Regions from separate parts of the Homo sapiens genome. Here region 1 is linked to region 2. The links come from fine-mapping of genetic effects on gene expression. A gene starts in region 2. The other region holds a variant in brackets. All regions are shown on one strand. Distances are between the middles of the regions.

Region 1 (4,000 bases), 32 kb after region 2:
TACTAGGATGAATTGCAAAACAGGCCTCTCCTGCATGTCTAAGAAAAAGCAACAAAGCAGTATTTTTTTGAATGTAAGTCTAAACTAAATCTTAAAATGGTTCTTATGCTCTGCAATATTTTTGAATTAGTCCAATAATGGAGATTCTATTAATCTGTATGTATACTACCAGAGCCAAAAGATTTAAATACTATATTATTTGTTGTAGGTCTAGAATCACCATCTAAAAATTGCATTTCCTTGGGGAAGGGGGGGAATCTATCCTGATAAAATTTTCCTTTATAACTTGTTCTAACATCTTAGTCCTGTTTTAGAAATAAAAAAAGGTTACAAAGTTCTCTGGAAATGAATACATTATTAAATCATGTATATATTTTTTTTAGAGCTAGTTCTCTTAGAAGGCTAAATGACACAGCAATAAAGAAATTACAAGTTTTACAGCACTTTTTTTGTTTACTTTTCTATACTATTTACTTCAATAAAATATTACAATACTAAAGCTCCAACTTAAATGTGTAGGTGTAATCTTTCATTTTGAATCATGTCTGTATAGTTTGAAAGAAAAAACTGAAAACCAAAAATTAAAATAGGATTGATCAGGGATCACATATAAAGGAAAACTGACAGGTAATCACAAATGTTTATATTTTGCTTGCAATGATGAAGATGAGTTCGTATATTACTCAAGTTTGGATATATAAAAAAAAAGTATTGAGGGGCCTAGAAATTGTATTTAATCCATAACCCTCCAAACTTTATAATACCTAAATCATAAATACTCACATTAGCCTCCAAAATGTTCTGGCTATATGCAACTCTTGAATTCAATTTTTCTTTGATTAAAAAAATCTATTTAATTTCAATATGACAAACTCTAAGGACCTAATTTCTCTGCCTAGTCTAGCTCATTTTCATAATCAGAAAAAATTACAATAGTTTAATGTTTTCACACTTCTGACTCCTCACTATACCTGGCAGGATGGTTCTATACATAAATGCAAAGTGTTGTTTAAGCCACGGATGGCCAAAGTGGTTGATGTTGAAGTGCCTCTGGACGAGAAACATGTATTGGAAGAGTGATCTAGTGGTGTAGCTGCCATACGCAACTCCTTCATAGAGGGAGCCATCCGTCACCTCCCTGAGCAAGACCAGAGATTTCTCCATGATGGTCAGAACTTGTTTGGTCCATAAGTAGGCTTCTTGAAGATATCCTGAAGGATGAAAACACATGGAAGCAATGACTAAAGCCTGTGACAAAGCATAAACAAAAATATGGCCAATAAAACCCTCTGAGTTATCTAACTAGTTTATATTACAAATCGCGTTTTGTAAAACTCCAACTTGTCAGTGTATAAATAACATCTTGTAATCCAGGTTGTGACAGTCCATGATGTAAGTTAGGAAGTTCTTCCTGGCTAATATGGTGAAACACTGTCTCCACTAAAATTACAAAAAATTAGCCGGGTGTGGTGGCAGATGCCTGTAGTCCCAGCTACTTGGGGGGCTGAGGAAGGAGAATGGTGTGAACCCGGGAGGTGGAGCTTGCAGTGAGCGGAGATCGCGCCACTGCACTCCAGCCAGGGCGACAAAGCGAGACTCCGTCTCAAAAAAAAAAAAAGTTATTGACTCTATAAATGAAGAGAAACCCTTAAATGAGTATCAGTCACTTTCCAGTCTTTAATAAACTGTATCACATGTAAGATCACAAATGCATATAACTTTATGTTGGCAAGAGAGGATTTGTATATTAAGATTTTTATTCAGTGTTCCTAAAAATATAATACTTGAAAATATTTTTAAAAGTTTATCTCTTTGTGAAACTTGCATCATTATTTTATAGAATTTGTAATAGGCTGCACATATTATAAACGCTAAACGGACAGTCTTCAATTTGTATTGTCATTAGAAGGTAACCTCTTATCCTTTATGTGCTTTTCCACAGGATCTGAAAAGGCAGCACAGTGGGGCTGAGAAACCACTGGAAAGGCAAACTAATAATGAAAAATCAACTAGGAATCCTGAATCTGCCAAAAAATGAGCTACATGATTTTGTCCAAGCAATTCTTCCATCTGTCACATTTTAATCTCCCCACTGAAAATTAAGTCTATAACAAGTTATAAAACCTTTTAACTCAGAAATG[C/G]TAGCTTTCTAGAACTGTTGCACTTAGTTGACAATAACAACTCCTCATATTTCTTTTTTTTTTTTTTTTTTTGAGACGGAGTCTCGCTCTGTGGCCCAGACGGGAGTGCAGTGGCGCAATCTCGGCTCACTGCAAGCTCCGCCTCCCGGGTTCACGCCATTCTCCTGCCTCAGCCTCCCGAGTAGCTGGGACTGCAGGCGCCCGCCATCACGCCCGGCTAATTTTTTTTTTGTATTTTTAGTAGAGACGGGGTTTCACCGTGTTAGCCAGGATGGTCTCGATCTCCTGACCTCGTGATCCGCCCGCCTCGGCCTCCCAAAGTGCTGGGATTACAAGCGTGAGCCACCGCGCCCGGCCAACTCCTCATATTTCTATAACATTTATAACTTACACAGCACTGAACAGAATCTTAGTTAATCCTTTTAACAACCCAATTATGTATCATTGCCCCAAAACAGAAACGCTGACTTGTTCAAGACCTCTGGCACATGACTAAAAATGAACACAACTTTAATCTCAACCTAGGTCTTTAGATTTAAGGTTTTCCTTTAAAACACGCAACCCTTGAGAATAAAATTAAGCCCAATGCCTCCTGGTGTGGGTGTAGCCACATTGCTTTACTTCCACAAACATGTTGACCACGCTACCATGGCCTACTATGTGGCAGGTGTGGGGCTTCCAGAGGCCCAGATCTAACCAGCTCTGGGCCTAAATATAGGTCCCAGGCTAAGACTTGGCTCCTGACTAATGGGGGCAATGCAGCTGTCAGGCTTGGGTATGCAGAGGTGACTGATCATCATACCCTGGCCTCTTCTGCCACCCAGCATCATACCTGATATGTCAATATTCTGGATAGTTTTCAATTTCCATTCTCTACCATTCTGGTTTAAAATTCTAATTATCTTCATCCTTTTCCTGTGTGTCTTCCATCTCCCACCAGATACCAATGTGACTGATGCCTAAAATCAGATCACTGTTCCCAGGATACCACATTACCTAAATTTCCTTATTTGTTCCTTACAACAACCCTCTTCAGAAGACATGAGGCAATGTCTACCAAAATACTTTGTAAACTGCAACTCTCTGTGAATACAAGGTACTGATACTGTTAATTGAAGCTATACCCTGTATTTTTTTTCTGCCACCCGAATACCTTGCCTGGAATGTTTTTTAATTTCCCCTTAAGTTCTCCTATCCATCTTCAAAGTTACATGAAGAAAATTACTGAAAGAACACTGCTTTCTTGAATTCCAAGTTAATATACTCATTTTATATTTAACCATAACGCTTTTCATGGTATCTTTTATTTCACTCTCTGGGGTTACTGTAACTATGGTGTAATCATTTAAACATTTCACACCTGTCTTCTTTCCAACTGATTTCTACCTCCTTCTGTCTAGTCTTGTCATAAATGTGTGTACTTATGTGGGGGCTCTGGAAGAGTGTCTGCCAGGGCCACCATAACTTTAATCAGAAAATAAATGCATAGGAAAATTCCTGCCAGGGCAAAATGACATATTTTGATTCAATCCAAACCAGTATTTTGGGTCACTGCTTATTATTTGGAATAATGTTATTTACAAAGACTGAAGAAATAAACTCTACTCCTTCCCTTAAATAAATAAAAATTTATTTAAGGAAATAAAACTATAGTAGCTTAAATTTAAGACCTGAAGCAGAAATTTGGCTCACCTAAGGGATCCTTTCACCATTTCATGATGGTGTCTTTTCACAGGCCTGGGGCTTTATAAATGGTTTGTTAGTGGATTCTCACATTGTTTGCATTTTGATGTTTTAATTTTCTTTTCCTTTCTATTTTATTTATTTATTTCTTTAAGGCTGAGTCTCACTCTGTTGCC
Region 2 (4,535 bases):
CAGGCTCGACTAGAAGCCCAATGTGCCATCAATTGTGCTATAGAACCAGCTAGAATGCCGTAATTTTAAAGTTCCTAACAAGATGTTGTGGGCAAGAAAATGAACTTGAAATTAACATCAGATAACCTAACAGAAATGTCTGAAGTTCAATTGTTCTGCCACTGTTTTTGCTCCAAAAGTCTTTTATTTGAAAAGGACTCTAGAACAAGGATATAAGACTTCTTTTAGTTCTAGCTTTTACTTTGGATGAATCACTTTCTTTTTTTGTTTGTTTTAAATAATATTATAAAGAGGTTAAGCTCTATATTTTAATTTCAGATATAAAATTCCACAATTTGGAAGAAAAAAAGCACTCAAAAAATACCAATGTTTATTTTTTAATAAAGCAATAATTCAAAACAATTTTTTTTTCTACTCATTCAAAAGGTCATAACTCAGGAGTGCTGTTTATACCAGATGAATCTACAAAGCCAAGAACAGGAATCACCGTATCTCCTTCAGTAGACCTGATACTGTGAGTCTTCTCTTTTCTGTTGACATATTTGTGCAACATGCTGTAGTACTGGCCCTTCGGATTGAAAGTATACAGTGATGAAATTTGCTGCCACTCTTTCATGCTTGGAGTGTTATATTCTTTTGGATGCGAGCCCTCAAAGAAACATTTAATATTCTCTTTTGCCAATTCAGTTGCATGCTCTGTGGCTTTACTTTTAAGGATCTGCTGCTCCTGTTCCAAATAGATTTTCCAGAATTTCAGCTGCAGAAAACTAACTGGAGATAGGCATCGGGTGACAGATGTAAAAATCAGAAGAATGATGATAACAACTGCTATCAAGATCCAGCCCAACACCTTAAGAAAACACAACAAAATAGTAATTTAGTTACTTGGTTTTTTACAAGAAATTTAAAAATCCTCAGATAAAGTTTCAACTACTCGCCAGTTATGATGATGAACAAGCAACAGTTTTAGGTCTTAATTCCTTAAGAGTAAGGTGTCGCAGTAACCTCCCTAGCCCCCCAGTACAACTTCTCGTTTGGAAAGTCAACTGTAGTCCAAGTTATGCACTATGATTCTGCCCAGGGAGGAGCCCATACCATTCCCTTAGAACTCAAAATGTGGAATTTCTGCAAATCCTGGGAAAGAAGTGTTCATTTTAAAGAACCTCTGAGCTTTCTAAGTCCAGTGGTGGCTTTAGAGCCAGACAAACCCATTTTATTCTATAGACCCCTTTAATTCTAACAATTCTGCTTTCTATTGGCTGGGCAAACAACTTTACTTAGACTCAGTGAAGTCACTATATAGGGGAGATACGAAACTATTACTTGTAATGGCAAAACCGCAATTTTGCACCCAACAGAGCTGTTGTGAGACGTAAAAATAATGCAGGAGGTCAAGGGCCTAGCGCAGTATCTGGCACTGAGTAGGCGTGCCCACTCTCACTCCCACTTTCCACGATTCATGTACAGTGCCAGATACTACGGGAATGCGTTTTTCTCCTTTTCATTCGTTTTATTCAGATATTCTCTTGACGGCAAATTAGATGCAAGGAGCCATTCTAGATTTTCTTAGGGTACTGTATATCTGGAGAAAAGTCACCGATTTTTCCCTCACCCCAGCGGCCCTGAGAAAGCTCGGCCTCTCGGCTCCTCCCAAACGCCCCCAGCGCCAGCGGCAGACCTGCGACTGAGCCTTCAGATCCTTCAGGAGGTCCTGCACGTCCGACGCCTTGGCCTGGTTGCACGGCACCAGCGGCAGCTCCGCGGCGCAGCTGCGGTTGCGGCCGAGGCACAGGCGCTGCGCGAAGGCCGCGCTCCCGGTGGCCGCGCACTCGTAAAAGGCGCCCCCGAGCAGCGCCACGGCCACCCAGGTGAGGGGCGCGAGCGCGGCGGCCGCGCTGATTTGCGTGCACACCAGGGAGCCGCGCAGCGCCGATCCGCAACTCGCGCGGGCGCTGGAGCAGCATCCGGTGAGCAGGCGCCACGTGCGTGCGCTCAGCACGTAGCCCAGGAGGAAGAGCGCGAGCGCCGGCACCAGCAAGAAGACCAGGCCGTAGGGCAGGTTCCAGGCGGCGCTGCACGGGCACTGGAATGCCACGGCGGAGAAGATGCGCTCCCCGCCCGCCGTCAGCAGGGTCACCAGGCCGTAGCCCAAGGCGCTGTGGTGCTTGACGTGCAGGTCCAGCACCGCCCGAAACTTCTCCATGAGCCTCGTCCCCCGGGGCGTCGCGCACAGGCCCAGATCCTTCTGCCTCTTCGTTGTCCTGCTTGTCAAATGGTTTTGGTGGGATGGGGACCGGGGCTTTCCACTCTGCGAGAAGCAGCCTTTTTTTTTTTTTTTTTAAAGGGAAGAGGGCTTCTCAGACCTTCCTAAAGTTTCACTTTCTCATTTCAGCCACACCACCTCTGGTTAACAGAACCAGGCAAGCAAACACCCCCAGGACCTTGACTTCTCTGGCACCCACCCCATTCCAAAGGCAGAGGCACCAGTTATCTTCCTCCCCCAATTCAGGAACTCTGACAGAAGGTTGACCTTGTTCCTTTATTACCACCAATCTGACAACGAACCAGGAAACTAACCTTCTTGACCCACGGCCGCCAGTTGGAAAAACTGGGAAATACCAGATTTTCCTCTATTGCAGCCACCCTAGTTACTAAGCCAGATCACAGTAAAACCAAATAATTATCAAAAAACTGATTACTTACGGGAAACATTATTCAAGGACAAATTTCTGGTTCCTCTTCCATAAGCTAAATCAGCAAAGTCCAGCTCAAGTTCTGGTACTTCTATGATGGGCGGCACCCTTTCCATCTCCCTACCGGACAGAGCCACCAGCCTAGTTCACACTGACTCTTCTCTCCTCTGCCTGATCTCCTTCAGGACATTAGACCAAATATACTGTATTGATTTACTCGTCAATACAATGTTCTTTTCTTTCAGATATGTCATAACACTGTCAATGCCTGGAGGAGAGTAAAATTCTGACTCTGACCACCAAGCTGATCTGCACAGAAGGGGATACATGATTATTCAAAGAATGCTAGTTGAACCCAAAATTTCAAACTGCAGCTACATCTATCTAATGTTGTTTCCTCCACCTTCAGTTTTCTCAAGCAGCGTTGTTCTGACACAAACACTGTAACCACTTTTGTGATATTGAGCCTTACTCTGTGTGACTCCAGACTGAGCTGAGGTGTGCTTGAAAGAACATGGGCTTTGAAGTCAAGTGCATCTTGTCTGTGGTGTGTTTAACAAGTATGCCCCTCTGAGACACAGCATCCTTATTTGTAAAAGAAGGATAATAGTGCCCACTTTTCAAGATTACTGACATGAGTAGATTGAGTAGCATATGTAAAGTGCCTTTACATATAGGATATGTCTGTTAAATGAATGATCAGTGTGAGAGTTTTCCCCTTAAAATGCAATTTGGGGAATAGACAACAAATAATTACATTGTACATAACCTAAGAATCTTGATGAATACTGAATTTTGAATTTTAAACGAGGATCAATTCAGTGGATAGTATTAAGTGACTCAATGACTCTGCTACCTTAAGAGAATTGGTGTACACCTTAGCTGTCTGCTTCACCACAAGGAGAGTATCTGGATATGGAGCTTGGGTGGGCAGTTCACAATGAAATGGTTCTTATTGGTGCCCATCCACCAGGCTTGCCTTATTTTATCTGGAAAGAATAGGTAGCCCATGGAACCAAGTGAATTTTTAGAGAATGGACAAGAAATGTATTATTCTTTTCTTAGTCCAACTTGCCTTCTTAACTACTCCCTCTCCAACACCACCAGCAGGGTGCCTAGCGTAGTGCCAAAAGCTGTCATTCCATAGTGATGTGGTAAATAGACATCTTTTTTCTATGTGTTTAGGGGCCAGCCCCAGATGAGGGTCTTCATGGTCATGCAGGAAAGTTGGGGCCCTCTTCTCTGAGATTAGACCAGATACTGCTAGGCTTCCTGTCAACTTGCAGCAAAGTTGCGTGTTTGAAGCGAATCACTTCTGCTCTGACTGTTATCTTTGTAATTTGTCATCTCCCAAGATAAATTTCTTCCCCTGTGCCTTGAGTAACTCTCCTCTTACTGCTGGACTCTTCTTCACCTCTACCATAATACTCTAAGATGTGTCCTCTCTCGTCCACCCTTTCCCATATTCCATCATGCAGAAACATCACTATATCCACAACCTTTGTGCAGATGGCTTTATCCAAATCTCCCCTAACCGAAACCTAATAAAAATGCATCCTTCTGTCTTCTTGAGTGAGATTAATTTATTCTCCCACATCTCTCAAACCAAGAGGGATGGCTGGCATTTTCCTGGTTACCTGCTGATAGCCATACCAGGGTTTTACCACTGTGCTATAATAGTTTATCATCCACTGAGGCTCAATCTAATCAGCACCATCTCCTCCTTCACCTCATTCCTATGGTCTGTTTTCATTCCCTTCATTTTTTAAGACTCTAATGAAGTCCATCACCTTCTCTTCCCTGGCTTCTGTTATTTAGTCAAGGATTTGTTTGAAATATGTT

The links. PIP is the estimated chance that this variant, and not a neighbour inherited with it, causes the effect.
Region 1: its variant is the best candidate, but not a certain one, in a credible set for the expression of CALHM6 in nasal epithelium (TOPMed, PIP 0.66).

The regions. Positions count from the first base shown.
Region 1 is chr6:116,428,165-116,432,164 of GRCh38, reverse strand. DSE (dermatan sulfate epimerase) reads right to left here. Exons shown (of 6, transcript NM_013352.4): 4 at 972-1,211. Among named protein-coding and RNA genes, the nearest start is that of CALHM6, 31 kb to the left of the region's middle. The variant C/G (reference allele first, on the strand shown) is at 2,142.
Region 2 is chr6:116,459,598-116,464,132 of GRCh38, reverse strand. CALHM6 (calcium homeostasis modulator family member 6) reads right to left here and starts at 2,758. Exons shown (of 3, transcript NM_001010919.3): 1 at 2,704-2,758; 2 at 1,679-2,261; 3 at 362-850. The coding sequence starts at 2,203. The coding sequence ends at 428. CALHM6-AS1 (CALHM6 antisense RNA 1) reads left to right here and starts at 429. Exons shown (of 2, transcript NR_174951.1): 1 at 429-514; 2 at 2,939-3,655. RefSeq lists a silencer at 1,693-1,772 and enhancers at 2,153-2,232, 2,243-2,352.